Regions from separate parts of the Homo sapiens genome. Here region 2 is linked to region 1. The links come from fine-mapping of genetic effects on plasma protein levels. A gene starts in region 1. The other region holds a variant in brackets. All regions are shown on one strand. Distances are from middle to middle. Region 1 holds the start of FJX1 (four-jointed box kinase 1). Region 2 overlaps LDLRAD3 (low density lipoprotein receptor class A domain containing 3).

Evidence for each region. A credible set is the group of variants that fine-mapping cannot tell apart. PIP is the chance, under the fine-mapping model, that this variant and not a neighbour inherited with it causes the effect. Sun 2018 read protein levels with aptamers (SomaScan).
Region 2: its variant is the best candidate, but not a certain one, in a credible set for the plasma level of the FJX1 protein (Sun 2018, PIP 0.72).

What each region holds. Positions count from the first base shown.
Region 1 is chr11:35,606,645-35,619,380 of GRCh38, reverse strand. It overlaps FJX1 (four-jointed box kinase 1), which reads right to left and starts at 921. Exons shown (of 1, transcript NM_014344.4): 1 at 1-921. The coding sequence starts at 744. RefSeq lists silencers at 174-443, 454-713, 734-803, 901-1,062, 884-1,213 and 1 more and an enhancer at 1-601.
Region 2 is chr11:36,051,968-36,064,703 of GRCh38, reverse strand. The region is part of intron 2 of LDLRAD3 (low density lipoprotein receptor class A domain containing 3); the gene reads right to left. It overlaps LOC101928510 (a long non-coding RNA gene), which reads left to right. Exons shown (of 2, transcript NR_135064.1): 2 at 1-1,421. Among named protein-coding and RNA genes, the nearest start is that of MIR3973, 48 kb to the right of the region's middle. The variant C/T (reference allele first, on the strand shown) is at 6,998.

The sequences.
Region 1 (12,736 bases):
GTTGGGCAGCCAGCGTGTCAGGCTCACCACGCTGCCCTCGGTCCAGTGCGCAGCGCGCAGCTCCTCCTGCACCTGCGCCCACTGCGCGCCCCGAGCCTCCACCCGAGCCAGTGCCAGCGGCGGCACGTGGCGCTGGAGGCCCAGCAGGCGCGCCAGATAGTAAGACAGGGCCTCGCCCTGAATCTGCTCCGGGTTGATGCCGTAGCGCACGCAGGCGCGGGTGCCGTCGGCAAAACGGGCCAGTCGGTTGGAGCTGCGCCCGCAACCCCCGCGCTCCAGGGCCACCATCCGGGCGCCGCGAGCCGCCTCCAGCCACGCCGCCGCCTGGGCCTCCGAAAAGCCCGGGGGCACCTGCTCCTCCAGGCCGCGGCTCCAGAAGACGCCCCCGTGCACCGCGGCGCTCTCCTCCGGCCGGGGCTGCCTGGCTGACACGTGCCACCTGGGCTCGCTCCGGGACTGCCGGGGCGGGCCGTCCGCGCCGGCCGCCAGGGTGAGCAGCGCCCGGAAAGTTTTCAGGGAGCCGCCGCGGGCGTCCCACGCCAGGGGCGGGGGCAGAGGGAAGCGAGGCGCGGGCGCGGGGCCGCCGCTCCGGGCCGGGCGCCGTGGGAGTCGGTCTTCGGGCGGCCGGGAGGCGGGCAGCTCGGTCCGCGGCGGCAGGAGCCCTCCCCACAGCGCCAGCAGCGAGCCCAGCGCCAGCAGCCAGAGCCCCGCGGTGGCGGCGGCGCCCCGCATCCTCCTGCCCATGCTCCCGCGGCTGTGCCGGTGCGCCGCCGCCGCTTCAAGCCGAGCCCAGGCACCCGGGTCCCGGCGGCGAGGCGGGCCCGGCAGTTTGTGGGCTCCGGGGCTTCGGGCGCTTCGGCCCCATCGCGGCCGCGGGGCGCTGCGGGGCTCTGTCCGGCGCTCCGCCCGGCGCTGGGAACTCGAGTCCCCGCCGCTTCCCAGCTGCTTTTGTATTTCGCTGTGAGACCCTCCGGTGGGCGCGATTCACAGGCGCCCGGACCACGTGGGAGCCAGGGGGATCCCCCTCCCCCTCCTCCGCCTCCGCTCCCCGCCCCCCGCTCCCCCGCCCCCTTCCTCTCCTCTTCCACTTAAAGCGGCGATGGCTCCTTCCGAGAGGGAGAGGCGGCCCCACACTCGGTCCGGGACTTGGGGGCCTGGAGGAAGCCGGACTGGCTGCGCCCGCGCCGGGGCGTAGGAGGGGGTGGCGCAGAGCCGGAGTCTGGGGCCTGGCGGGAGGGACGCGCCCTGGGCCCTCGCGGGGGTGTCTTGGTCGCCGGGTCCCTTTGCCTAGGCAGCGCGGGTCTCCTGCAAACTTCAGACAGATTTCCACCTCTTTCCGAGCTCCGCCAGGCTAGGATCAGGCAGGGTCCCTTTGCTTTCTCAGTTTCTGTCTGGGTGATTCACGCTGCTTTATGTAAATCTCTGGGAATGTCTCCGAGCCACAGAGGATGTGATTCCAGCGGAAAGAGGAACCCGCTGTAGCCAACAACTTTGAACCGACACTCCCTTTTCCGAGCTCGCACATCAGCACCAATCAGTATTGGCCGCTCTGCCTTTCCCAACGGACTCCCAGGGAATGAAGCCTCGCTGTGCACGTGCCCCTTGAACACCTAGGCCATCTCCCATTCATTCATGCATCCATTCAACACAGCGACTGCCCCTCAGTTCTGGTTCTGCTTACCAGAAGCAAAATCCACAGATCCGGGTCCCAGTGCTGCTGAAATTTACATTCCAGTGGGACTCTCAGGTTGCTAAGAGAGATTATAGCCATCCAACCTCGTGTTGGGGAGAGGGGAGTCAGGGACGACTTTTCGAAAGAAATGATACCGTTTTGTCCATGAGGAAACTGAGGCACAGAGAAGGGATGGGTGTTGCTCAGGATTGCACAATTAGCAAGGGGCGAAGCTAAAAGTCAAACTCAGGTCTCCTGGCCGCATGCACTTGATTTTCCCTCCATTAAGAAAGATCAGTATTTTTTTTTTAATCAAGTCAGCATTCTCAAGTTTGAAATTCACTGTCATTTGACCACTTTGTTCCCCAAATGTGATTTTTCAATTAAAAGGATTTTTCAAATGGAAAGGAAAAAAACCTCAATCCCATACTGCATTTGATTTACTGCTTTTACGATTTAAGGGAAAAAGAAATGGTGGTGGTGGTGGGGGAGGGAGGTGGTGAAGGAGCAAAGAAAACAAAATGAACAACCTCTTCACCCCAACACATCTTCCAGCCACCTCTGGGTTACATTTACCAGGAAAACTTGGATGCCAGTCGGCCCTCCCTTACCTCTCTGTATCAGAATGAGTCCCAGATCCACACTGAGATTCCCAGGGTAGACACAAGATCAGGGGCATGGTGGAATCCACCTCTCAAAGGCCAGAGTTTGAAATCTGTTTCCTTACATGGTGTGTATCTTTTCTCTCCTTTCATCTTCCCATCAGGTGCACATGGGGGTTTTCAACTGGACTACCTCATCAGTTGGCACTGATTATGTTTTATTCTCCAAAGAAAAAACGTTCTAGGGTGATAGAGCGTTCCAGGGTGATAAAGCAGACACTCTTATGTTTATGGCTGAGCAGAGGCATCAAAAAACCACATTTGGAGTATTGCAGCACTGACCCAGGATACAGTCAAGTGTTTTCACTGGTGTGGTTAAGTACATACTGGATGAACTGTTGAATCTGTTCCCAACCACATGGTGGCTATACCATGCCATTTTATAACTCTTATCTGATAATGAGATTACTATGGCTCCCATATGGTTGCATCGAAATATATTAATCCATTCAAAGGTCTTATTTTTTTGGCCTATGTAAGCCCCTCCTCATCTTTCCCTAGCAGGCAGGGACTATGTCTTATTTTTTTATTTCTTATACCACCTAACATAGTATATTACACTAAATAAGCACTCAATAAATTTAATTTTTTTGTCTTTTGGTTTAACTTCTACTGGGATATATATGTATTTATTTGAAAGGCAGCCTCTTTCAGCGTGGGCAAACTATAAGCAAGATCGCCACCTAGTGGGCATAAGTAGAGTATCATCTAATTGGAGAAAAGTAGACATTTTTAACTGGATGATTAATTGTTGAAGTTAAATTCGGAAGACTATTAAATGTCTACTGTGTACCAAGCTATGTCCTAGGGGATATGGAGAAATCCAAAGTAGTTGGGGTCTCTGTCTTTTTGGCTGCTAACAAAAGCTGTAAGTAACTACCATTGTAAACTTCCTGGGGAGTCTGTCTTGTCCATTGTTTTATGGCTGCCTGGGCACAATGCCTGGCACTTAGTGTGTGTTCAACAACAATTTGCTGAATACATCGTTAGAATGCTAATGAGATGCAAGTAGCATGTATCAAGTTTTTTTAAATTAAATACCTTACTACTAAATAATGCAAAACAATTTTGTCCAACGGTTGTGAGTTATTGTTCAGCTGATTAAAGAATACAAAATAAGAACTTCCACTCATTTGAAAAAGAAAAAATATTGGTGAGGGTTTTGCATGATAGATGTGAGGGGAAGCACATGATTTTAATTCTGGGAGGGCTGGCTTCAAATCCAGAGACTAGAAATCCTGGAATCTCCTAACCATATTGCTGGTACTGATGAAAAAAACCCAGACTTAAATAAATTGACTAAGATCGTACACCTCATAAGATGGACTAATTTTATCATTGAGCAGCCCTTTGCCTATAGCCATAGGACTGAATGCATCATGTACCAGAACAGGATGCATTAATTTGTTAAACTTTAACAAATTAATTGAAATGCAGAAATACAGAAAACCAAAGGAACAAACACTGCCCCTTCCTCAAAGTGGAATGCAGTTTTGGAATGGTATTTGATTATTTGAGACAGGGTTTAAAAACATGCCTCTGTTTAGCTGTTAGATGAAAATACTCCCATTCTCCTTTATTTTCTGGACTGAGGACACTCCCCTGCCACCTGTGGCCAAACCACTTTGGCTCTGTGGGGTAGCATAGTTAATCACCTCAGTCACTTCTGCCCTCTGGCAGTTGCTTGGGGATGAGAAATCCATTTGCACTTTTATGACTTTCTTAATACTCCTTAGAATTTATCCCTGAGCCTGAACTTCCAATATCTTCAAACTTTTCCACAGTCCTGTTTGAAGAATGATCTGGTTCATGTAATGGTGCCTCCTGGGGGAAAGAGAGGAGGTGGAGTTGAGGGTTGGAAGCAGGGGAGGAGGCTTGGAATTGGAATATTTTCCAAGTCTGGCATTAGCACTTTCTGGCTTGTTCCTTGTTCTAGTTATTTACTTTCTGTGAGTTTCAGTTTCAGAACCTGAGAAATAAGTTAATAAATCCTTCCTAACTCACAGGGTTGTCATGCAGCTCAAGTGAAATATTAATAATAACCACAGCATCAGTGGCAGCAAACACTTATTGAACTCTTATTATGGGCTCGGTGTGGAGCTAAACCCTGCATGTGCTTTATCTCATGAAACCCCCCCAAAAGTATTATTATACCCACTTTACAGATGGGGAAGTGGAAGCTTAGCCAATCAGTGGAATGAGGTCATGCAGCAAGGAAGTGGCAGGGCTGCGATTCCAAAATGATGGGGACCAAACCTTTTGTAAATTATAAACTGCTAGGGAAATGTCAGGTGCAGAAATTATTACATTAAATCAAAATAGATTCAACTGAGATGAAATTTTGGTTTCATGTGTTCTCTGGGGTTTGTTCCCAAGTGAAATGGTTAAGAGTGTGAACTGTCAAGCCAGATTGTCTCATTAAAACCCAGTCCTGCCACTTACCAGGCATGTGACTTCGGGTAAGTTACTTAACCCCTTTGTGCCTCAGTGTATATATCTGTAAAATGCAATAAGAACAGTATTACTAGTATTACTAACAAAAATTATAACAATATACAATATCTCATGATTACTAGTAATAGGAACAAATCTTATAGATTATTGTGATGATTAAATTAGTGCTTATATTTAAAGTGCTTAAAAGAGCATCTAAGTGTTCACTATAGTATAGCTGTTGTTGTTCTTTTTCCTTTCTATTTCCTTTCTATTTCACTGTTTCAGTGCTCAGATGGGGATGTCTTCCTTCTCTTGTTGCTGTCCTCCACCAAGTCTCACTTGGTCTTGAGAGACCTAATACAAGTGGTGTTCCAGCTCAATGCACCTGCTTTATGCCTGAAATGGTGTCTTTCCTGATAATTTTGCAATATTTCTTCCCCATGGAGCTGGACCACCTGGCTTCTACCAAGGTTCCCAGTGTAACTCTTGTTAAATGCCCAGAGCCTCCAGCCAGCCTCGGGCAGACAGCTTCTGGCTTCCTCTCACTAGTCTGCCTCCTTCAATCCTGACCTTTTCTGGATCTCCTGAGTTATAAGCCCCTGGAAAAGACAGAGGCGTCCAAATGTACCCTTCCACGTGCTTCTACAAAAAGGAAGAGAGGGGACAAAAGATGTCAGAGATGAGTATAATATTCCATGGAAGTGGTATGACTCCTACATTGGCCACTACTCTTTGACCCTGGGGAGTTTTCTAACCCCCTGGGCTATAATTTTATTATGTATGTATCTCTGTTACGGACTGAATGTTTGTGTTCCTCCTTGCACCATAAATTAATATGTTGAGATCATAACTCCCAATATGGTGGCATTAGGAGGTAGGGCCTTTGGGAGGTGATCAAATCATGAGGGTAGAGCCCTCATAAATGAGATTAGTGTCCTTATAAAAGAGACCCCAGTAAGCTCTCCAGCTCTGTTTTCATCATGTGAGGACCCAGAAAGAATACCGCTGCCTATGAGCAAGGAAGAGTAGCCCCACTAGACACCCAGTCTTCTGGCACCTTGATCCTGGACCTCCCAACCTCTCTCTCTCTGTCTCTCTCTCTCTATATGTAGATAGATAGATAGATATCTCTATCTATCTATCTATCTATCTATCTATCTATCTATCTATCATCTATCTATCTATGTATCTATCTATATATTTTTTTTTGAGGCAGAGTCTTGCTCTATCACCCAGGCTGGAGTACAGTGGCACAATCTCGGCTCACTGCAACCTACACTGATTTTCTTGCCTCAGCCAATTTTCTTGCCTCAGCCTCTCGAGTAGCTGGGATTACAGGTGTGTGCCACCACAATTACGTCCGGCTAATTTTTTTTATTTTTAGTTTTATTTTTGGTAGAGATGGGGTTTCTCCATGTTGGCCAGGCAGGTCTCAAACTCCTGGCCTCAAATGATCCCCCCGCCTTGGCCTCTCAGAGTGCTGGGATTACAGGTGTGATCCCCTGCGCCCGCTCAAATGTTTGTTGTTTAAACTACCCCAGCCAATGGCGCTCTGTTATAGTAAGCCTGAACTAAGCCATTCCCTCCTTCCCGTCTTTTCTACCCTAGGGTACATTATGTTTCTGCTTGAGGATCAGTTTCCTTTTCTTGGTATCTCTATTTGACTATGATCTGGGTCTTCCAAAAATTGCTTAACTGATCTCATTCTCACATTCTTGGCTGTCAAGGGTGGGTATATTGATGCCTGGTTCCAGATAAATCCTACTGGAGAGCTAGAAGGAGGTCAGGAAATAGAGTAGTCTTTGAATGCAATGAACCTATCTGCTTGAACAAGTCCCACTTTTAAGAACACATTGTGTTTCTGGAAAGAAAGTCATGGTTGACAAGAACCTTGTAAATTGTGATGAGACACATTTTTACGATTCTCTTTATTCCACCTAGCTCTCTTTTGGACCTGCTTTGCAAAGGTTCCTGCAGACACTAGTGTTAAAGACTCGAATCTAAAGGTTGGAGCACCGGTGAATCAATTTAGTAAATTTTAGAGCAGTCGCCAACACATATTTCAGTCCTGGTTACAGAGTATGATGGTAAGAATTCTGGACTGGGCATTTGGAGACATGAATTTCTCTACTATAATTTAGTTCCACAGACATTTGTTGCCCACATGGTAAAGGCCAAAGGACTGAGGAATAAGTGATTGGGCATCAGATCTTCCTTCACACCTGCATCAGGGAACGTTTGTTGTCTTCTTTTCATCCTCCGCCTTCCCTTCCTCCTTTTTGGCAGGTCTCTACCTTCATCCTCTGTGCCTTTAACCTTTAAGGGATGCTGAATCCTGTTTGGGCTGAACCAGTCATGGTGCTTTCAATTCCTTGCAGTGACTGGTTAAGGCTTAGGCATGTGAGACCATTCTGGCTAGTGAATGTTACGGGGGAAGCCCAGTGGAAGGTTTCTGGAAAAGTTGTCTGTACTCTTACAGAGACACAAGAAAGATATGGCACCTTTTCTGCATGGTTCAGGCTGGATGGGAGGCCTGGAACTGAGGAAGTCATGTTAATGCAAGGGGAACTACGTTCACACAATCAGGAAGGCAGAGTAGAGAGATGGAAGGAACCTGGATCCTTGCTGATGTCACCAAGCCCCCAAGTTAATCAACTCTGGAAATGCCCTTCCTCTAGATTTCCTGTGGTTTAAGCTACTCTGAGTTGGGGTTTCTGTTGTTTGCAGCCCAAATTCTCCTGAATGACATACCCTTTCACATCAGAGCTTACAAACTAAGGAAGGAGGCTGACTTATAAACAAACAGATCTCTTCCATCACAACTGGGCTACTGGGAAAGTAGTGTGGTTTAATGTTTTGGAACATGTGCTCTGCAGCCAGGCTGAGTCTTGCACCTATGAGCTGTACCATCTTGGGAAAATCACTTAGCCTCTCCGGACCACTTAACTCATCTGTAGAATGGAGATGGTAACTGTACCTGCCTCATTATTGTATGGATAAAATGTACCTTAAGCACTTAGAAAGGACTCAATAAATATCAATTGCTGTAGATATTATGGAAATAGAAAGCACACGCAGGAGCATAGAATAGGGAGTGACTGATTCTGCCAGGGAAGTCCAGGAAGGCTTCACCGAGGAGGCAGGTGTTAAGATGAGTCTTGAAGGGGAAGTGGAGATTTACAGGTGGGGTGGGAGATTCAGCCAAGTAGAGGGAACAGTGTGTGAGCTCAACAGCTGTGTGCCCACAGGCAGATTACCACATCTTTCAGGAGCTCAATTTCTTTGTCCTTGAAAGCCCTTGAGTGTGTTGAATTAGCTTAATCCTCTTTTGGCAAAAGAAGTAAATCTCAGGCCCCCGCCCTAGATTGAGAGCCACCTCATTAGAGACCCTCCATGGCCCCTTCATCAATAACCTATGATTGTTGGTCTCAACCCACCCTGAAAAAATTCACTCAACAAACACTCCCACTAAAAGAGGTGACTCTCGTTCTTCTTTGTTGATTTCTATTCTTCGTTGCCACCCAGAGATTTATCCAGTGCACAATTAGTGATTCTGTGCCTCCTCAGCTTTCCAAGGCCCCACATATCTCATCAGTCAGATAGATGCTGAAGCTTAATTAAGCTTGTAAAGCTTTCTGATTTCCTCAGATGAAAGGTAGTTCATAAGTACCAGGTTTTATTTTGGTAGCTCCTGCCAAGGGTTATTATAAATAGGACTTAGTGCGACGTGGCTAAGCTCTTAGGGTGATAATGTGTCAAGACCAATTGAGGCTGCCGAAAGCAGAGATATTATCATAATGGTTCTATCATAGGCGGTGGGTGTTAATGGAAGTAGCTGTGAAAAAAAGAAAGTACTGCAGCCAGCAAAGCCCGGATCGAGATGGTTGCAAGTGAAATATCGGCTGCTCATGGGATCTCCATCATAATCATTAACCATATTAGCCTTGGAGCCATTCTTCTGCCATCTCTCCTAGACCAGGCTCACACTCAAATAAAAAATGGATGCTTTAACTCCAAATGAAAATATATTCCTTTGCTGCTTTTTAAAATCCATTTACATTAAAATGATGGCCAGCAGGTAAGTAATTTGTAACTGGGGGCTTACTGCAGTGCAGAAAAGTGGCTTCGGAATAGTGAGTCACCTAAGTGGGAGACCAGGAGACTTCCAGACCCAGGAAAAGCCATTGCTGCTGGACTGAAAAATGGCTGGCAAGAGTAGGAAAAGGCAAGGGATAACTTACAGACACTCACTGATGGGGAATAGTGAGCGTAGAGGTAGTTTGATATTTCCACAATCAGGTGAGTGAAAAAACAGAAGTTCTTAGGTAATGCAGCCCTGGTTAAGAATGTGTTAGCTTCCAGGGCCCTAGCTTTGGTTGCCGAAAATCAGCTTTTTGCATTCCATAGGCAGACAACATCATTTGATGATGTTGGTGATGGCAGTGATGGTGATGATCATGATGATAATAATGATGTACCCTGTTGTCAGTTGAAGCCACCTGCTTTTTTGAGATCCAATTGGACTTAGCCTAAATTCCTATTTGTATTCCTATTGTATGGTCTCGGTGGCAGGGAGGTTCAAAGACTTTCCCCTGTTCCTGAGAGTCCCTGGAGCTTTGTGCCTCAAACTTCTGTCTGTGTCCACTTCCTGCTTTCACAGTTGTGACTTTGGCTCCAACACACATCAGCATGGGTGTGAAGTTCACTGCCTTAACCACCCCCCCGCCTGCATTTGGACCAAGATATCATGAGTTCATTGACTTTCCTGAAGATCTGGTGGGGCTCGCTGAGGAGAGGTCACTGCACTGCGCAAGGTCTTCATCCATGCAGCTGTCTTCTCTTTCCTTTCTCTCTCCCGCCCGTGTGGGGAAACAGGTGAAACTTTCCTCTTACATCATGTAAAACAGGGCTACTCCCATTCAGGATCCATTCAGGATCTCAGCTTCTAGTTCAGGTCAAGGTTTTTCTAGGGATCAAATTGGGGGGTCCCTGAAGGGATTTCTGGTAGACACAATTTAACATTTTCAGCATACTTTCTACACGTCAGGCAGTGTGCTGAGAGTTTTCCAAGCACTTAATCTTTAAGATCCTCCCACAACACCGCAAGATCTTATTTTCCCATTTCATTCATGGGAAAAAGGAGCATCATTAGAGTAAGCCTCAGACCAGAAGACTTCTGCTATTGGGTAAAAGAGGAACCCCAACTCTTGTCTGCCAAAAGACCAAGGTTATGTTAACTACAATGCCACTTGGCTTCCTGGGGCTGAGAAACACTGGTGAATTAGCAAAGGGGACTCTTACAGGGGAATTGCCTCTCTCCTTAGTACCTGCACGTCGTCTTTCTCAAGGCTGTTTGATATAGGTACTACCTGCATCCTCATCTCTGCTGAATGATTAAGCCCAAGCCCATTTACTGGGAGGTACGTTGCAGTACAGAAAGCTCCACAGGATTAATACCTTATTGAGTGGGATGTGATTGATCCAGAAAGAGGAGGGTTGGCCTGGCAATCCTGGAAATGGCACTGTCTCTGTCTGGGGAGCAGATCAGCCTGGACAAGAATGGCAATGCAAGAACACCTGCTGTCATTTCTCCTCTGGTTTTGCCCCTCCCATGAGCAAACTCTGAGATTGCCCCAGGGAAGATGCCTCTGTGGGGCTGGGTGTGTTTGTTTCACACCACACATTGAGACTTGATGCTGAATGTCTCCTTCCCTTTCATTTCACCTGAAGAATAAAAGAAGAAAGAAACTTTAAAGGCCACTTCTTGCTGCTTGAGTTTAAAAAATGGCTACATTTTACAATCTCGGCCTGAGGAATAGCAGGACAAAAGCTGAGGAATAACAATGGTTATTATCTAGCTCCTTGCAGTTTGGCCGAGCAGTTTCACAGGCTGATCTCATTGGGTTTTCAAAACAACCTGCTAGGGAGGGGTAGTAAGGCAGGGGTTAGTTACTGTTCCTACTGATGAAGAAGAAAGCTGAGCTTCAGAGAGTTGCGTGATGAGCCCTAGGTTCTCAGCTAGTTCCTGACACACCAAGAACATGAATGCACTTTACCTGAGTTTCACCTCAGAGGTTTTACAGGACACTCCGTCTTTGCCCAGTGTGACTCACATCTGCAGATTCTATCTCTATCTCATGTTTTCCACATAGTTACAGGTGCATGTTACCTGTATGTTACAATGGCTGCTAAAACTCCAATAATGAGGACAGAAAAAAGAAACCAAGGATTGCTAAAAAGCTAGAATATTTAGACACTCCTTTCCCATTCCATGGTGCTTTCTCTCTCTTTTTTGAGACAGAGTCTTGCTCCATCACCCAGGCTGGAGTGCAGTGGTGTGATCTCGGCTCACTGCAACCTCCATTTCCCTGGTTTAAGTGATTGTCATGCCTCAGCTTCCCAAGTAGCTGGGACTACAAGCATGTGCCACCACACCCTGCTAATGTTTGTATTTTTTTTTTTGGTAGAAACAGGGTTTCACCGTGTTGGTCAGGCTGGTCTTGAACTCCTGGCCTCAAGTGACCTGCCTGCGTTGGACTCTTCTATCTCTGTTACTAGCACTTATGAAAGAAAGGAAGTGGGGAAGGAAAATGAGCAAGAAAAGTTAGGGAAAAGAGAGAGAGATTATTTTTAAATACTTTTCTCTGCTTACCTGTTTCAATAAGCAGAAGAGCTAACCAAAGAAGTCAGAGAAAGAAAGTGCAGGTAATCACTGATTATTGACTTATTTGCTGAGTGAAATTTTTTTGGGGGAAAAAGATTATACAACAACTCTGAGATAGTTAACAGGAAATGGTAACAAGCAAAAAGCTTCCTCCTGTTTTTCTGCTCCTGTGCATGATACCCCCTCTCACTCAGGGCAAAATCAAGTCAGCAGATCAAAGCATGATGTTAAACTTTGTCTTCATCTCTCCCCATTGGGAGGGCCATTTAGTTAGGGGTGACAACAGGTCTGCATGGCTTTTTAGGATAAGTGAGAGTAGCTGGACTATAGAAGTCTTCCCACCTTGGTTTTCTCATTTGTAAAAATAGGATATTAATGCTTGCCTTGCGGAAGTATTACAAGAATTCAATGAGATTATGGGATTAGAGCAAGTGAAAAGTTATAATGCAGTTTCTGGCATATAGTAGGCACTCAATAAATATTAAAAATCACACATGAAGCTGCACAGAATGTCTTGGAGGACACACACTAACCTGTTAATGGCATTACTCCCAAGAAGATGTTTGTGTGTGGGGGGCACTTTCACTTTTATACTGCATACGTTTTTACTTTATAACTCATTGTGGGAATGATATGTAAGTATTAATGGATGTGTGGATGCTCACGTTAAGAGTTATGATCAGATAGAGAGTACTAATGTGACATTTTTGTACATCTGTCTGTGTGATTGTGAAATCTGTTTTTTGTGGCTTTCTTTTGAGACAGGGTCTCGCTCTGTCACCCAGGCTGGAGTGCAGTGGAGCAATCATAGCTCACTGCAGCCTCGAACTCCTGGGCTCAAGGGATCCTCCAGCCTCAGCCTCTCAAGTAGCTGGGAGTACAGGCACATGCCACCATGCCCAGCTAAGTTTTTAATTTTTTTGTAGAGACGTGGTCTCAATTTGTTGCCCAGGCTGGTCTTGAACTCCTGGGCTCAAGCGATCTTCCCACCTTGGCCTCTCACTCCTGGGATTACAGGCATGAGCCACTGTGCCCAGGTTGATTGCAAAATTTATACTCACTACTAGTAACAGCATCAATAGAAGCATCAATGGCACCAGCAAACACCAGAATTGGCGGCCCTGGGTATGTAAACAGGAGCGCCTTTGATCAAGGGTTGTGGGTATAAGATGTCTCAGCTACAGGCACCTTCCATTCAAGCTTTAATATTCCAGGAAGGAGGAATCTGATTAGTCTATTTTAGGACCAGGTTTCCAGCATCGGCTCATCCAGACTTTAGTATGTAAGGGAACAGTTCTGTGC
Region 2 (12,736 bases), 450 kb before region 1:
TGAGAGTGAAAGTTATAGCTGTAAATGCCTACATTAGAAAACAAGAACGATTTCAAACTCATACACAAAAAAACTATTAGAACTAGCCAAGAGTGGTAGCTCATGCCTGTAATCCCAGCACTTTGGGAGGCTAAGAAGGGCAGATCACTTGAGCCCAGGAGCTGGAGACCAGCCTGGGCAACATGGCAAAACCCCATCTCTACAAAAAAAAAAAAAAAAAAAAATTAATTAGCCAGGTGTGGTGGCCTGCACCTGTAGTCCAGCTATTTGGGAGGCTGAGGCAGGAGTATCACTTGAGCCTGGGAGGTCAAGGCTGCAGTGAGCTGTGATCACACCACTGCACTCCTGCACTCTAGCCTGGGCAACAGAGTGAGATCCTGTCTCAAAAATTTTTTAAAAAAAACTATTAGAACTAACGAACAAGTTTAGCAAGGTTGCAGGAGACAAGGTGGATACACCAAAATCAATTGTATTTGTATACACTAGCAATCAGCAATCCAAAAATGAAATTATGAAAACAATTCCATTTCCAATAGTATCAAAAATAATAAAATACTTAGGAATAATTTTAACAAAAGAAGTGTAAGACTTGTACACTGAAAACTACAACACATCACTGAAATAAAGAAGACCTAAGTAAACAGAAAGCCAAACCATGTTCAAAAATTGAAAGACTTAAAATTGGGTAAGATGGCAATACTCCCCAAATTGATCCACAGAGTCTATGGAACCCTTATACTAAAATCTCAGCTAGCTTCTTGGCAGAATGGACAAGCTGATCATAAATTCATATGGAGATTCAAGGGACTCTGAATAGCCAAAACCATATTGAAAAAGAAGAACAAAATTAGAGGACTAACAGTTCTCAATTTAAAAATGTACTACACAAAGCTAGAGTAATTAAGACACTGTGGTTATTGGCATAAGGGTACACATATGGATCAATAAAATAAAATTGAGTGTCTAGAAACAAACCTTTACTTTTCTAGTCAATTGATTTTTGACAAGAGTGCCAAGAAAATTCACTGGATAGTCTTTTCAACAAATGGCTGAAACAACTGGAAATTCACATATAAAAGAACGAAACTGGACTCCTATATTCCATATAATGGAATGAAGTACTGATACATGATACAACACAGATGAACCTTGAAAACATTATTCTAAGTCAAAGAAGCTAGACACAAAAGGCCACATACTGTATGATTCCATTATATGAAATGTCCAGAATAGGCAAATCTGTAGAGACAAAAAGTGGATTAGTGGTTCCCAGGGACTAAGAGAGGGAAGAATGGGGAATGACTGCTAATGGGTACATGGTTTCTTCCTGGGGTGATTAAAATGTTCTAAAATTAGATAGTCGCAATAAATTGCACAGCTCTCTGAACATAACCAAATAAAGAACAAAACTTTCTGGTAAATCCTGAGATCTAAGAAGACTGGTGACATCAGAAATGAAAGAGTTGCTTTTTTCCAGGAAAGTCCTAATTAGCCAATTCCTCCCCAGGCAAAGTTAGGCAATACTGGGGGATGTAGTGGGGTGGGTGTGGATAACCCTTCTGGTCTTAAGTTTGAAGTTTACATTTGTTTTATTTCAGTTCCTTCCTCAGGGAAGGACTTTCAGGCCTCTCAAAAAAGTATCAAAGAGCTGAAACTCACCAGATCACCACATCCAGACAATGAAATGCAGAGACTCTCTATTCATCATAATCGTTTCCTTGCCCTTTCCCAGTTCCTGTTTTCTTACACATTGTTACATTTCTTCCCTGCTATACAAAGCTAGTTTTAGTGGGTCAACGTATTAGTCCCTTCTAATAAAGATACACCTAAAGACATACCCAAGACTGGGTAATTTATAAAGGAAAGAGGTTTAATTGACTCACAGTTCAGCATGGCTGGGGAGGCCTCAGGAAACTTACAATCGTGGTGGAAGGGTAAGCAAACACGTGCTTCTTCACATGGCGGCAGCGAGAAGTGCCAAGCAAATGGGGGAAAAGCCCCTTATAAAACCATCAGATTTCATGAGAACTCACTCACTGTCATGAGAACAGCATGAAGGTAACCACCCCCATGATTAAATTACTTCCCACCAGGTCCCTCCCATGACGTGGGGATTATGGGAACTACAATTCAAGATGAGATTTGGGTGGGGACACAGCCAAACCATGTCAGTCAGGGAGATGGATTTGAGACTGACTGAGCTCCCATCTCCTAAGCTGCAGCACCTAATTAAAGGCTTCTTCCTTGGCAATAATCGTCGTGTCAGTGATTGGCTTTCTGTGTGTCGAGTAACAGGACCTAGACCGAACCCCTGGTGTTTCAGTAACAAAAAGAAAGACTTACCTGGCCCCAAAATGTCAATACTTTTGAGGTTGAAGAACCAACCCTGTACTAGGGAAAGGTCAATACTCTTGGATTTTTTGCCTTTTCAGATTTACAGAAACTTTATATTCTATATCATATGGGCTATAGCCCATATTAATGGTTAAGACTATAAAGTTATTTTTATCATAGAAATCAAACAGACATGGATTCAAATCCTGGATCTACACCTTACCAGAACCGTGACCTTGGACAAGTTACCTAACTGCCCTGGGCTTTTCCTCTCTCATCTGTAAAATGGGAGATGAAACTGACCTTACAGAGTAGCTGGGAGGATTAAATGAGAAGATGCCTGTCTAAGGCTAAGAGTTTTTATTACTATAACTACTGTTTTTTTTTTTTTAAGTTCCCAAAGTGGCTTGGTATCAGAAAATGGGTGACTGGGTCACCTAAAAATAGGGCTATTTTATCCAGTAACAATTAATATGCAAACTGGCAATTTTATGAGCTAATAAGCAATTGAAACATACAGTTGATATTCCTCACTACTACATTATAATCTAGCTAAAGAGAGACTTACCAAAGACCCAGTTGCCATAGTAATAAAAGTTTCTGTGGGTCTTACTGATAAATGCTTTCCATTTTCCAGGCTGAGCTTTATGCACAAGCCCCCTGTGGTCGAGTCTTTTCTACTTACTAAACCTATTATCTTTCTGCTGCTCAAAAACCAATTTATTATAGTGAAAAGAGCCGCCCAAAACAGGGCATGATGACAGCCTATCATTTATTGTGGGTTTTTGTAATGGAGCTCCCCAGTTAGTAGTATCAATTAGCAGCTCAATAAGACATGCAGCTGCTGCTTAGCAGCTCAGTAAGACATATTAAACCACCTTCTATCACCTCCACTATGCCAGGTACCAGCACAAGATTGCTTCATGCTTGGCCAGGCACAGTGGCTCACACCTGTAATCCCAGCGCTTTGGGAGGCCAAGGCAGGCAGATCACTTGAGGTCAGAAGTTCGAGACCAGCCTGACCAACATGGTGAAACCCCGTCTCTACTAAAAAAATACAAAAATTAGCCAGACGTAGTGCCACGTGCCTGCAGTCCCAGCTACTCAGGAGGCTGAGGCAGAAGAATCACTGGAACTCAGCAGGCGGAGGTTGCAGTGAGCCGAGATTGCACCACTGCATCACAGCCTGGGCAACAGAGCGAGACTCTGTCTCAGGGGAAAAAAAAAGATTTCCTCATCTTTACCGTAAATGAGGAAGAGGAAGAAGACACTCTTACTAAATGTTTATTGTGTGTTCTGGGCTTTCGTGGACTTTACCCCACTTAGGCTCCACCAAAAAACTGTGAGGCAGGAATGATTACCAACACTGCACAGAAGACAGGAAGCATCACAGTGGTTAGGTAACCTGTCCAGGGACACACTTTTATATACATATTTATCTGTTATAAATTCATATTTTCATAAATTGAGTTGGCTGAGATAAATAAATAGTTTAAAATGTGGAAAATGGGATGTTATAAGGAAAAGCAGAAAAGAAAGGTAATAGACAAAAGCATTCCACAAACTATTATATGATTACTAGTATCAGGGCTCAAATTTTAGTTGAGTTTCCTTGTGACCAAAACAACAAAGGAAGCATGATCAATAGTGAGGATGGAGAGAAGTATCCAGAACATTAGAAGTGAACTCTTTATAAGACAAGAGATTTTTGGTGCTCCCACACCATAACCCCATCACACAAGCAAGTAAATCATAAAATGTGAGTCAGTTACAAAATTTGAACCCAGATCAGACTGAATCCCAATCCTACAAAGGCTACCCTAAGGAAGGATGAGTGTGAATTCATCATTCAAATTCCACATTCATTTCCTCAACAAGCACTGTGGTGGGGTGATTAAGAGCAACAACTCTGGAGTTGGACCACTTAAGTTAAACCCCAGCTCTGCAACTTTCTAGCTACATGGCTACATGATCTTTGATTGTGAGTTATATAACTTTTTTTTTTTTTTTTTTTTTGAGACAGAGTCTTGCTCTGTCGCCCAGGCTGGAGTGCAGTGGCGCAATCTCAGCTCACTGCAAGCTCCGCCTCCCGGGTTCACGCCATTCTCCTGTCTCAGCCTCCCGAGTAGCTGGGATTACAGGTGCCCACCACCATGCCCAGCTAGTTTTTTGTATTTTTAGTAGAGATGGAATGTCACAGTGTTACCCAGGATGGTCTCAATCACCTGACCTCGTGATCCACCTGCCTTGGCCTCCCAAAGTGCTGGGATTACAGGCATGAGCCACCTCACCCAGCTGAGTTATATAACTTCTGATGCCTCCATTTCCTTATCTGTAAAATGAAGATGCCAATCATGATACCCATCTCGCAAAACTACTTTGGAGATTAAATGTAAAGCACTTAGACTTTTTAGTCTCCATTACATAAGTGTAAACTATTACTATCCCTCCTATTCCCATCACTGTCTATTGATAACTGGCTATGTGCTAGGCATTGTGCTAAGCATGGGTGGATAGAGCCTTTCACAAGGCAGGGGAGGTCTCACTCTCAATGGTGCTCTAGTCAGGGGAGGATGAAAAAGAAAAAACAAAAAACAAATCAGGCAGTGCTAAGTGCTAGGTGGTGATGTACGGAGATGTGATAGTCGGCAACCGTACAAGTAGTTTGGGTGTTGAGGAAAGGAATATCTAAGGCAGAAGCAGTTCCAGAGAGGTTTAGAAGACAAGAAGTCAGCCAACCAAGGGTAAGAGGGGACAGCAGCCAGGCAGAGGCAACATCTCAAGAACATACCTAAAGCCTGGGAAGAACTTGAAACAGAAAGAAGGGTTGTGGAGTGGGGCTGAAGCAGAGTGCCCAGGGATGGCAGGGGAGGGTACAATGAATCAGAGAGGTCAGCAGGAGCCAGGTCAGGTAGGGCTTCTTCAGCCTGGCTAAGGAGTTTGAGTTCAGAATTCTAGCTGTGATGAGAAGTCATTACAGGGGAGTGACCTTATCTTTTTTTTTTTTTTTTCTGAGACAGGGTTTCACTCTGTTGCTCAAGTTTGTGTGCAGTGGTACAATCATGGCTCACTGCTGCCTCAACCTCTCATGCTCAAGTGTGCCCCAGCCTCCTGAGTAGCTGGAACTACAGGCATGAATTACTGACCAGCTAATTTTCTCATTTTCTGTAGAGACAATGTCTCACTATGTTTCCCAGGCTGGTCTTGAATTCCTCGGCTCAAGTGGTCCTCTTACCTTAGCCTCCCAAAATGCTGGGATTACAAGTGTGAGCCACTGTACCTGGCCTGATTTATCCTTTATAAAAGACCACTCAGCTGCCCTGTGAGAAATGCTCTGAGAGCACAGAGGGAGGCACAGAGGGAGGTAAAGGAAGCAGGAAGACCAGTCCAGGGAGTGACAACAGTGCCTTACACTAGCACAGGAGTGGGGAAGACAGAGAGCTGTGAATGAACTCAGTATCCTCTAAATCAGGGTTCCTCAACCTCAGCACTCTTCACACTAAAGCTGGATAATTCTTTGTTGAGGTGACTGTCCTATACATTGTAAGGTGTTTCACATCTTTCCTAGCCTCTATCCATATACACCAGCTGCAACCCCAATTGTGACCATCAAAAATGTCTCTATACATTGCCAAATGACTATGAGGGTTAAAATCACCTCTGACTGAGACCCACTGCTTTAGAAGTAGAGTTGACTGGGCTTGCTAATGGATTAGAATAGGGAGAGTGGGCAATTACTAAAACAGAGGACTCAAGAAGGATTTCTAAGTTTTTGTATGTAACAAGGTAAGATCATCTCAGACATTCAGAGGGCTCTCCCTCTATACCAGTGGACTGGGTTTTGATTTGCAGTGCCACTAAATCATTCATTCATTCAAACAGTCCACAATGAGTGTCAGCCAAACCCGATGCCAGGGATGCAAGCATAACTTAAAGAGCTCGCAATCTGACAGAGACGCAGACCTATAAGCAAATGGAGTTGATAAAGTAGGTCATATGCTTCAGAAAAACCCCCAAGACTGACCAGAAGCGTGAAGGAAGACGTGGCTCTTTGCTTCTGGGGGAAGTGGTGTGAGTGCTCCAGTGAGATTCCAGTGTTGTGCCTGGAAGACAGAGGCACAGAGGGAAATGGCATGTGCCACAGCACCAGGGTGTGAGACAGAGCTGGCGGGCGGAGAGCAGGAGGGAAGGAGCTGCTGCTGAAGAGACAGGAGGGACCAGCCAGGAGGGCTCTCTAAGACACACTTGATTTCATGTGCAATCTGGGAGCCACTGGAGGGTTGTTGTTATTATTCCTACTACTTATTACTAATGATTAAAGGAAAATCAAAGAGACATCTCCTGAGTGCTCAGAGGGCATCAACCCCAGTGCTGGGCGCTCCACTGAGATGAGGTACTTCATCCCTCCTCCAGATGAGAAAACTGCAACCTAAAGAACTCAGTGACTTGCACAAGATTTCTTGGCTGACAAGTGGCAGAGCCAGGATGTGAACCCAGACCAGCTGGCTCCAGAGTCCACGTTAAGCAAGGAAATGGTGACGCAAATGTGTGGTTTCGGACAATCATTCAGGAAATAAAAATATCTGAGGATCACTAGTTTATGGAAATAAATGAGCAAGGGAAAATGTATTAGATGGAAAGGTCAGAATTCATTTCCAGGCAA[C/T]TGACGATCCAGGGAGGAAGACCAAGAAGGTAGAAGGGCAGCCAAGAGATAGTGGGCAGAATCTCAGCAAACAAAGGAGAGAAGACGAAGAGGCAGTCTGCAGTGTCCAGTACCGCTTCAAGGCCAAGTAATAGCGTATTTCAACATTTGCTGGATCTGACAACTAAGAGATTCTTGGAGCAAAACATTACTGTGGAGGATGCAAAAGCCAGGTGCAGAGGGCCAAGGAGTCACACACTGGCTACAACAAAGGAGAAGGAACAAGAGCCAGTGGGACACTAGCTTGAGGAAGAGTTTGGGGCCAAGGGACAGACGAAAGATGAGGAGGTAAAGAAGTAATTACTGCGAGGAATTCACAAACTTGAGTGTAGATTAGGCTCCCCCGGCGAAACAGGATACAAGTGGGCTTCTGGCCCCATCCCAAACCCAATAATCAATGTTTCCCAAGTTGGCCTCAATCCACCAGGGACCCTGACGATCACAGGAACCACTGAGTGAGGCGGCGTTTCTCATAGTGTGGTTCCTGGGACACTGGCAGTTTCCTGAGTCTATCCTAGGCCTCCTGATTGAGAATATCCCAGAAAGGTCCTGGGAAGCTGCTTACTGAAGACTCCAGGTCATTCTGATACAGCCAGCTTAGCTCCCTGAAAATCATAAACTCTAGACCCTTGTGGCTCAAAGTGTAGACCTCAGACCAGTGCATCAACAGTCACCTGGGGGGTTGTTTGAAATTCAATCAGCCTTACCCCACATACCTACTGAGCCAGACTCTGCATTTTACCAAGACCCCCATGCCTTTTGAATGCATATAAAGTTTGAAAAGCTCTGGACTGCAATACAGGGAGGATTTGGGGAGTGAAGGGAGAGGTATCGTGTACCCTCCTGCCAGACATATTTAGTGGAGAGTGCCCTGAGAATGCTTGCTGCTAATTTTAACAGGAGATAGCAAAGTGTTCCTCAAAGAAATCTCCTTCAAGGTTCTGATGCTTCAAGCCACTGCTGCACCCTTCAGGGCTGAGGAGCTAAGTCAATCATGATTTCAGACATTTAAAATGCAATATCTTTTTGCGGCAATGGGAAAGTATTGCACTTTATGCATTCCGAGAGCTCCAAGTGAATCCTGAAAACCTCCTCCATACAGACCTGCCGTGGTGTGCACTTACCCACAGGGGGCAGCACAGCAGAGTGGTTCAGTGGCTCAACTCAAGCCAGAATGTCTGCTTTCAAAACTTGGCTAGGCCACCCAAGTGCCTCAGCCAGTTACTTAACTTCTCTAAGCCTCAACTCTCCAACTGTATAATGGGGATACTAGCAGAACTTAGGTGATGTGAGGACTGAATGAGATCATCCATGCAGAGCATTGGGCACAGTGCCTATTATATAAAATTCAGTTGCTGTTTAAAGGCAGGCTGTCAGCCAGGTGCGGTGGCTCACACCTGTAAACCCAGCACTTTGGGAGGCCGCGGCGGGTGGATCACAAAGTCAGGAGTTCGAGACCAGCCTGACCAACATGGTGAAACCCTGTCTCTACTAAAAATACAAAATTAGCCGGGCGTAGTGGCGCATGACTGTAATCTCAGCTACTCAGGAGGCTGAGGCAGGAGAATTGCTTGAACCTGGGAGGCAGAGGCTGCAGTGAGCTGAGATCATGCCACTGCACTCCGGCCTGGGTGACAGAGCAAGACTCTTGTCTCAAAAAAAAAAAAAAAAAAAAAAGGGCAAGCTGTCTGACCCCAGAACCCCTACACTACATGCTCACTTAGAGTCTCTACCATTTTGCATAACCTTAAAGCTACCCAAACTCATTCCTACATGTGCAGGTCCACCTGCAAGAAAAACATTCTGTATTTTCACAAGGAAGAGAACATTCCATTGAAAATTACAGAGGTCTGTAGTTGTAAGGGTGCTTGAAGGTAACATAACAGAACCACTTTATAGATGAGAAAACTACGGCTGAGAAAAGCGAGAGTGCTCACCCACAGCAAGAGTTCATTCTTTGCACCAAAGTATACTAACTAGGAAGACCACAGGCAAGTGTCTTTTAGCGCTGTGGTTTCTACCCTGCACACGGGCACTGTGGCTGCACAGGCAATGGCTGAACCAGGGAAGACTGGCCCTTCTGGGCCGATAGTGCCATCTGCCAGTCCCCCAGGCTGTGCTAAGCAGTGGGAGTGCCCCTAGCACCATGGAATTAAATGGAGAAGCCAGTGAGGCTGCCAGGAACCCTCTGTTTCTGAACATGAAAGCCCTTCATTAGCTTCTGCCTCTGGTTTTAAATCCAAGCAAAATATCTGGATACCATGGCTTGAACTGATGATAATAGGCATCTATGCAAGGGCTGAGAGAGAAAGAGAGGGAGGGATAACACTCTCCAAGAGTTCATACCCCTTGGGACCCAAATCAAAAAGGAGAAAAGTTGAGAGAATATTTCCCTTCAGAAGAAAAATTAATTACAAGCAGGAATTGGGGTCAGGGCAGGTGGAAAGGGAGGATATGAGGCTGTTAAAGTGAATCAATCAAGTGATCCTTTAAAAGTGCTGAGAGAGCAAGTGTGTGTGTGTGTGTGTGTGTGTGTGTGTGTGTGTGTGTGTGTGTGTGTGTGATCCATCCACACATCCATCCATCCATCCATCTATCCATCCACCCATTCATCTATCCATCCATGCATCCATCCATCCATTCATCCAACCATCTATCCATCCATGCATCCATCCATCCATCCATCCATCCATCCATGCATCCATCCATCCGTGTATCCATCATCAATCCATCCATCCATGCATCCATGTATCCATCATCCATCCATTCATCCATCCATCCAGGCATCCATCCATCCATTCATCCATCCATCCATCCATCCATCCATTCATCCATCCATCCACCTATCCATCCACACATCATCCATCCATCCATGTACCCATCATCCATCCATCTATCCATCCATCCATCCAAGCATCCATGCATACTTCCATCCATCCATCCATCCATCCATCCACCCACCCATCCACCCATTCATCTATGCATCCACCCATGCATCCATCCATCTTCATTCTTTTTAAGCAGCAGCTTCTGTTGATGTTTTACAATTCTGTTCTTCCATCAGCAGAGAAATCAAAGAACTGGGTGATGTCAATCCTGTAAATAGCCAGCATCTCTGGGAAGATGCCAGAGGGCATGTTTCTATTTAGAAGGAAAAGAAGGCTCAGTAAAGTAAAACCCCATGCTCTAGGTTCCATGCAGGGTCAAGAAGAGCTGCTCTTCTACCTTGCTCGGCCATGGCATACCGGTCTACTCTGGAATTCACTCACAGAGGTACTGTTTTGTTTTTAAAATTGCTTGTTTTGTTTTGATTTTACTCACATCCCCTGCAGTCATACAAAGGGTAAATACAATGCTGCTCCTATGTAATTTTCCTCAAGGCCAGCCTTAAATATAAGACTTCAAAAAGGATTGCCGGTTGGTGGGAGAAAAATCCTGGCAGAATTAACAAATTAAGTGATGACACAAATCTGCCTTTGTACTCCCACTGTCTGGAATGAAAAACAAAATATTTCTGAAATGCAGAAAATGGGGGGGAAACCTGGCACACAACCTGGGATATTAAACAGAGAGCGCAGGGAAAGTGTGTTTCACATATGCATTGTTTTCATAATCGTTTACACTTGCCAAAGTTTGGTTTGCATCAGAGGATGATTATACAATCCACAGTTTATGTTTTCTTCTGAAATATACCCTACAGGGCAAAGGGAAGAGTGCAGGATGGATGGACTCTAGGGAACCCCATCCATCACCTTGTCTGTGGGCATAGCTAACTGCTAGCATTAGGGTGACTCCTTATAAGAGTCACATGACAACTTCTTGGAGGTGCTCATACAATGTTTCCAGGTAGCCCCTGTAGTAACTGTGAAAGGCCCCATCTCCTAATGGTGCATGGCCCATTCGCAGTGTCAAGGGCACTGAAGAGAGATCTTAATGGCATCATCTAAAAATTATCCTTAACCATGAACATAAGTCTCTTCTTCTGGGGTCACGGGAAGAGGATTCCAAGCAGATGTGCACCAGTCACTTCTGATTGTTAGAACAGTAGTGTTGCTGCTGCTAGTGGCAGCCAAGGCTGATGTCTACCAGGCACTGTACCAAGCACTTTGTATACATCCTTATGTTTATTTCTTGGACAGGTGGCGAGACTTACCCAGCCGTACAACACAGCCAGTCATGAGTGAAGCTGGGAGCTGAAACCATCAAAAGCCTGAGCATTTCTATTAACAGGGAGCTCATTAGCACGTAAGGCGCTCCACAGCTACCTTTAAAGAGTTGCAGAGAGATTTTGGCTCATTATGAGAAATAAATTTCTGAGTACTCTCATGCTATGATAGTTGGAAGTGAGCTCTGTTCTGAAAAAAGACAATTACAGTGCTGTCTTTGGAATCACAGATGTCAAAATGAGATTTAAAAAAAGAAAGAAAAAAAAGGCTGCTTAGAGAGCAAGTCCAGTAGGAATCAACTCTTTTGTCTGTTTACCACAGAAGCCTCTGTGAAAATCAAATCTCAAGCCCAATAGATATTTTTTACAAAATAGACTTATAGCTGCTTTGTTTTCGGCAAGGACAAGAGTCCATGCTCCAAGCCCCCATGGCTCAGGTGCTCTCCTTTCTCCCTTTGGCACTCCAAGAAGTACAGTTAGAAAAACAGATAGGGGTCCTACTCCTCACTGCAGAGTTTAAAAAAAAAAAAAAAATCAGACCTCAAATCAGAGAGCTGGGTCCTAGCAAATCCTGATTGGTCCTTATGACAGATATGCTAGACCCTTCACACATCAGCTTCTAGGACCTGGGCAGCATTTCTCTTTATGCTTTAATTTTTCTTTATGGTCCAAGGACAACCAGTTGCATGTACTTAAAGATGACATTGTTAATAACTATAGCTAATTCTTTTCAACAACTAAGAAGGGTCAAGCATTGTTAATACCTGTTAAACACTTAACAGGTACAAATGTATTTAAACTCTAGGAGGTAGATTCTATTTTATTATTTCCCTATTTCACAGATAAGGAAACTGAGGCACAGAGAGATTAAATAATGTGTCCAGTATGCAAAGGAACTAGGACAAACCCATGTTGGCCTCTGTCAAGCTTGTGTGTTTTCAAGCACTCCACACACTGCCTCCCATGCCAAAATAAGATGATGTTAGAAATGAACAATTATCATTATCCCACCTTCCAGAGATACCCACTGTTAACAGGGATATAATCTTATTGGCAATATTTGTTGAAATTTCCAACAGACAGGTGTCTCTTGCTGAGAATTTCATTTCTGGCTCAGATAAAGTCATCTCCTCTCATGGGCATTGCAACAAGAGCATCTGCGATCTATTTGATTTCTTTAGGAGATAATACGCATGAAAGAACTTTAAAAGCAAAACAAAGCAATAACCCATATCATGTCACCATCCCATTACTTAGCACTCCCTGTTCAAAACAGTTTGCTTTTGAGGCCACCAAACTAACTGCAATGCATCTGCCTGGACTTAGCAGAAGGAATGCTCTGCTGAACATTCCCCCTACCCAGACATCAAAAGAGGCTGGCAATGTAAGATTTGTCCAACCAACTTCCTTACTCAGTGAGACTCAGTCTAGTCCTATGACAGATGAGTTTCAAAATTCAGTGAGCACCAGACTCCCCTGGGCTGCTTGTTTAGATGCAGATTCCTGGGCTCCACTCTGTTTCTAAGAATTCTATT